Linked DNA regions of Homo sapiens: region 1 is linked to region 2. Evidence: fine-mapped expression QTL. Tissue or cell type: lung. Region 2 holds a variant in brackets; the other region holds the start of a gene. All regions are shown on one strand. Distances are from middle to middle.

Region 1 (2,923 bases), 190 kb after region 2:
TTAAAAAATTCCTGCTAGGATCTTGAAGAGATATATGCATACTCATGTTCACTGCAGCATTATTCACATTAGTCAAGAGGTGGAAGCAACCCAAAAATCCATCAACAGATGAATGCATAGGGAAAATGTGGTGCATATACAGTGGAATATAATGCAGTTTGATAAAAGAAGGAAATCCTGTAACATGCTGCAACGCAGATGAACCTCGAGGATATGACACCAAGTGAAATAAACATGTCACAAAAGGACAAATACTGTGTGATTCCACTCATATGAAGTGTCCAAAGTAGTCCAAATCAATGAAACATAAAGAATCATGATTGTCAAGGGCAGGGGGAGAGGAGAGAAATCGTTTAGTGGTGAAGAGTTTTAGTTTTGCACGATGAAAAACTTCTAGAAACTGTTGCACAACAATGTGAATATACTTAACACTATTGAATTGTATACTTAAAAATGGTTAAGATGGGGCTGGGCGCAATGGCTCACACCTGTAATCCCAGCACTTTGGGAGGCTGAGGTGGGTGGACCACCTGAGGTCAGGAGTTTGAAACTAGCCTGGCCAACATGGCAAAACCCTGTCTCTATTAAAAATACAAAATTAGCCGGGCATGGTGGTGCATGTCTGTAATCCCAGCTACTTGGGAGGCTGAGGCAGGAGAATCGCTTGAACCTGGGAGGTGGAGGCTGCAGTGAGCCGAGATTGTGCCATTGTACAATCTCTTGTCGCCTGGGCAACAAGAGCGAAACTCCGTCTCAAAAAAAAAAAAAAAAAAAAAAGTTAAGATGGTAAATTTAATGTTACATATTGTACCACAATAAAATAAAATCCTGCCAATACAACAATATTGCAGGACTAATACAGCAACCACCTTCCTTCTCAGAGGTTCTAAGGGGAAGTAAGAGCTACAAAACATTTTTATTCTATTAATTTAAAAATATCCTGTCCCATAAATCATATTTATAACAAACAAAAAGCTCTGGAGAATATAATGTTCAGAAGAGTGTACCCAGAAATAATTAGAATGTTAGATACAGCCCAATGAGTCAAATATTTAGTGCAAACAAGCTGCAGGATAACAATTATGGGGAGAATAAAAACTAACTTCTTCATTTCAAATGACAACAAAAAAAGGGAAATAACACTAAACTGCAGGGCCAGCAGTTACATAGATGGACAGATAGTGGTTAAATTTTGGACTAGGATCAAAACCAAGACTGCAGAATCCCATCATTATTTCGCTTAAAATACAGGTGATGTTTTAATTTGCTCGGGAGAGTTTATCATAGTGATCAAAAGGGGAGAACACCATCAGAAATCTCATCTAGTCCTAATAATACAAGTTTGTTTTAGCAAAGGTCTTAAAGGAATACATGAAAATATGCTAAAATAATGTACAGATGAAAACTTAAGAAACAGAAATTCAGTGCTTGTGCTTTGAAAGTCCATATAGCATATTATGTATCATTTCTTACAAAACACAGAAAATACATATTTCTGCTTAGAATTTATAAAACTTTTAAATTTTGAGCGGGGGGAGGAAAACATTCCACAATTGTCAAGTTGGAAGGTATTCATAAAGAAGATATAAATAATTTCCTAAAGTTCAGTGTTGGTTGAGCTTAAAGTTGTTCCATGGTAGTAGGGCTTTTTAATATTTTCAAAAGGAATCTGAGAGTTGTCATACCGAAAAAAGAAAAAAAAAAAGAGGGGGAAAAAAAAAACCCTACCACCACATATGAACATAAAAAAGAAGAGAACCCCAACCAATTGCACCACGACCGGATGGAAGAGCCCAGCTGACACAACCAAGACGAGTCTCAGTGTCTAGGGAAGCTTGGGGTTCTGCTCCTTTTACTTCAGGCGAACCTGAACTGTGAGTATTTCTTGATTTCGGCTACATAAATGAACCTTTATTTCAGCTAAAATTTGATTATCTGAACATTCAAAGTGAAACGTGATTCATGGTGATAAGGCTACTCTAATGTCAGCAGTTATTCGCTTTTAGAACTACTGAGTAAATTGCTTGAATGACACCTCTGCCTTGATTTCAAATGAGACTGTCTTTTTAGTTACTTTAAGTACTTTAAGACATTCAAGGTATTTAAGCTCCTACTGTCAATATAGTCACATTGTTGATACTGCATTTGGATACTGCCATCAAGATTTTGCAGATCTACTTGCATGAATTAAAAGTTATTTTCATATGCAATACATTTTATTTCTAATGTATTATAAATTATAACTTATTGACTTTAAGTTATGCTGTCTCCCTATTTTAAATTACTGTCTTTTCTTTATTATATTATTACTATTTTATAGTATTACCAGACCATATAACATTTAAGTTTGGTGTTTCAGAAGTAAATAAGGTGAATATTAGATAAGAGAGAAAGCAAAATATGCTTTAGTTCAAATAATAATTTTTTAAAATGTGTTTCTAGGGACACAGTTAAATTTGTAACAAAACCTAACACACTATTAATAGTATTATTTCCAAAGTAATATGTTTTCAATTTTCATTTTTTATACAGCAGTTAATGCAATTTTGAAGCATGCCCTGAATAGATTCAGTCATTATCAAGTCAAACTAAAAACGGTGAAAGGTTGCGACTATTACCAAATAGGTATGTATTTCAACATAGCAATGTGATATTTTCACAAACATACCCAAACTGCATTTTAAAAGCTTCTGCTCATCTGGAGTCACAGTGGAATCTGTTGGGTCCTGCCCTCTGGGTCCAGTACTCCTACATGAGCCAGTTGAAAAAAAACTGCAGGAGTAGGTGGTGGTGCGGGGGTACAATGCACTAATACTAGGTTTTTGAACTTGTGAATAGGATTTGCCAAGTAACAACATTTAAAAAACACTATCTACTATTACAAAACTATTGTGACCACTTCAATATAGCACATGGGTCACAA
Region 2 (2,923 bases):
TTTATTTGGGCCAGGCACGGTGGCTCACGCCTGTAATCCCAGCACTTTGGGAGACCAAGGTGGGTGGATCACGAGGTCAGGAGATTGAGATCATCCTGGCTAACATTTGAAACCCCGTCTCTACTAAAAAAACAAAAACAAAAAACAAAAAAAATGAGCTGGGTGTGGTGGTGGGTGCTTGTAGTCCCAGCTACTCGGGAGGCTGAGGCGGAGCTTGCAGTGAGCCAAGATCACGCCACTGCACTCCAGCCTGGGTGACAGAGCTAGACTCCATCTCAAAAAAAAAAAAAAAAAAAAAGACATTATTTGATAATGTTCAAAACACATTCCTGATAAACATTCTTGACAAACTAGGAATAGAAAATAAGTCAGCGTTCTAGAATCAAGAACCATTCTAGCTAGTTTAAGTACAGAAGGAATGTATTAAAAGCTATTAGGTCCACACAAGGTAGCTTTTAATTACAAAGGGGAAAATCAGTAACTTAATAGTGGAGAAACCTGGTAGGCACCACTTTAATAAAGTGATCAATGTTCACATCACCAGAAATCAGACAAATTGACAACTTGTGCCTCCTGATATAATGCACTAAGAAGGACACACTATCACTTCTGTGGTATTCTTACAGAAATGCATACCTGAATTTAATCATGAGGAAACATCAGAGACACCAGAATTGAGGAATGTTCAACAAATAACTGGTACTCTTCAAAAGTGTCAAGGTCATGAAAGACAAAGGAAGACTTAAGAACTAGCCCAGATTGAAATAGACATGATGATGACTAGGATGATGTGTGATCCTGGACCAGAAAAAGGAGGACATTAGTGAGGCAACTGGTAAAATTTGAATAAAGTCTCTAAATTAGATTACAGTAATGTATTAGTGTTAGTTTCTTAATTTTCATCTTTGTACTGTTGTTATAGTTTTACATTTTACATTTTTTAATTTTAATTTATATATATATATATATATATATATTTTTGTTTTGTTTTGAGACGGAGTCTCACTCTGTCACCCAGTCTGGAGTGCAGTGGCGTGATCTTGGCTCGCTGCAACCTCTGCCTCCTGGGTTCAAGCAATTCTTGTACCTCAGCCTCCTGAGTAGCTGGGAACTACAGGTGCCCACCACCAAACCCAGCTAATTTTTTATTTTATTTTATTTTATTTTTTTCTGAGACGGAGTCTCACTCTGTCGCCCAGGCTGGAGTGCAGTGGTGCGATCTCGGCCCACTGCAAGCTCCGCTTCCCGGGTTCACGCCAGTCTCCTCCCTCAGCCTCCGGAGTAGCTGGGACTACAGGCGCCCGCAACCGCGCCCGCAACCACACCCGGCTAATTTTTTGTATTTTTAGTAGAGACGGGGTTTCACCTTGTTAGGCAGGATGCTTTCAATCTCCTGACCTCGTGATCTGCCTGCCTCGGCCTCCCAAAGTGCTGGGATTACAGGCGTGAGCCACCTTGCCTGGCAATTTTTGAATTTTTAGTAGAGATGTGGTTTC[G/C]CCATGTTGGCTGGGCTGGTCTCCAACTCCTGACCTCAGGTGATCCACCCACCTCAGCCTCCCAAAGTGCTGGGATTACAGGCATGAGCCACCGTGCCCTGCCTTTACTGTGTGTGTGTGTGTGTTTTTTTTGACGGAGTCTTATTCTGTCGCCCAGGCTGGAGTGCAATGGCATGATCTCGGGTCACTGCAACCTCCACCTCCCGGGTTCAAGAGATTTTCCTGCCTCAGCCTCCTGAGTAGCTGGGATTACAGGTGCGCACCACCACGCCCAGCTAATTTTTGTATTTTTAGTAGAGACGGCATTTCACCATGTTGGCCAGGATGGTCTCGATCTCTTGACCTCCTGATCCACCGACCCCGGCCTCCCAAAGTGCTGGGATTACAGGTGTGCACCACCATGCCTGGCCCTATACTGTTATATAAAATATTAGCATTTAGGGAGTCTGAGTATATGGAAATTCTTTGTACTATATTTGCAACTCTTTTCTTTTTTTAAAAAAATATTCAGGCCGGGCACAGTGGCTTATGCCTGTAATCCCAGCACTTTGGGAGGCTGAGGCAGGTGGATCACCTGAGCTCAAGAGTTTGATACCAGCCTGAGCAACATGGTGAAACCTCGTCTCTACTAAAAATACAAAAATTAGCCAGGCATGGTGGCGTGCACCTGTAATCTCAGCTACTCAGGAGGCTGAGGCAGGAGAATGGCTTGAACCTGGGAGGCAGAGGTTGCAATGAGCCAAGATAGCGTCATTGCACTCCAGCCTGGGCAACAAGAGCGAAACTCCATCTCAAAAAAAGAAAATAAATTCATTTATTTTTGTGGAGACAGGGTCTTACTGTGTTGTCCAGGCTGGTCTTGAACTCTCAGCCTCAAACAATCCTCCTGCCTCGGCCTCACAAAGTACTGGGATTACAGATGTGAGCCACTGTGCCCCACCTATATTTGGAACTTTTTTGTTTCAAAGTATCTCAAGTTTAATTTTTTAAATTTAGAATTTAAAAAACTATTAGGGTAGATCAAAGAATCCTGGGGTGAGCTGGGCATGGTGGCTTGCACCTGTAGTCCCAGCTACTCAGGAAGCTGAGGTAGGAGAATAGGTTGAGCCCAGGAGTTTGAGACCAACCTGGGCAATATAGTGAGACTCCATCTTTAAGAAAAAAAAAAAAGGAATTCTGGCATGGACCAGACATTCAATAGTGAAGAAAAAAAAAAAGAAAGAAAATCCAAACTGTCTTGAGGGGTTCCTCCGGCGAAGCCCCATGGCCACTGCTGCTGGGCATGGGAATCAGAACCTCTGTCACCTCTGCCCCTGACAGCCAGATGCCACCACTGCCATCCTGATTATAAAGCTCCTCATTGGACACTTACTCCTCATGTTGCTTTCTTCTGAATCCAGGTGCCTTACAGGGGCAGAACCTAGATC

What was found. PIP is the estimated chance that this variant, and not a neighbour inherited with it, causes the effect.
Region 1: GPR34 starts here. The variant in region 2 is the best candidate, but not a certain one, in a credible set for the expression of GPR34 in lung (GTEx, PIP 0.87).

The regions. Positions count from the first base shown.
Region 1 is chrX:41,687,211-41,690,133 of GRCh38, forward strand. GPR34 (G protein-coupled receptor 34) reads left to right here and starts at 1,763. Exons shown (of 3, transcript NM_001097579.2): 1 at 1,763-1,874; 2 at 2,533-2,625. All of the region lies in intron 5 of CASK (calcium/calmodulin dependent serine protein kinase), which reads right to left.
Region 2 is chrX:41,501,652-41,504,574 of GRCh38, forward strand. No RefSeq gene overlaps it. Among named protein-coding and RNA genes, the nearest start is that of CASK-AS1, 15 kb to the right of the region's middle. The variant G/C (reference allele first, on the strand shown) is at 1,497.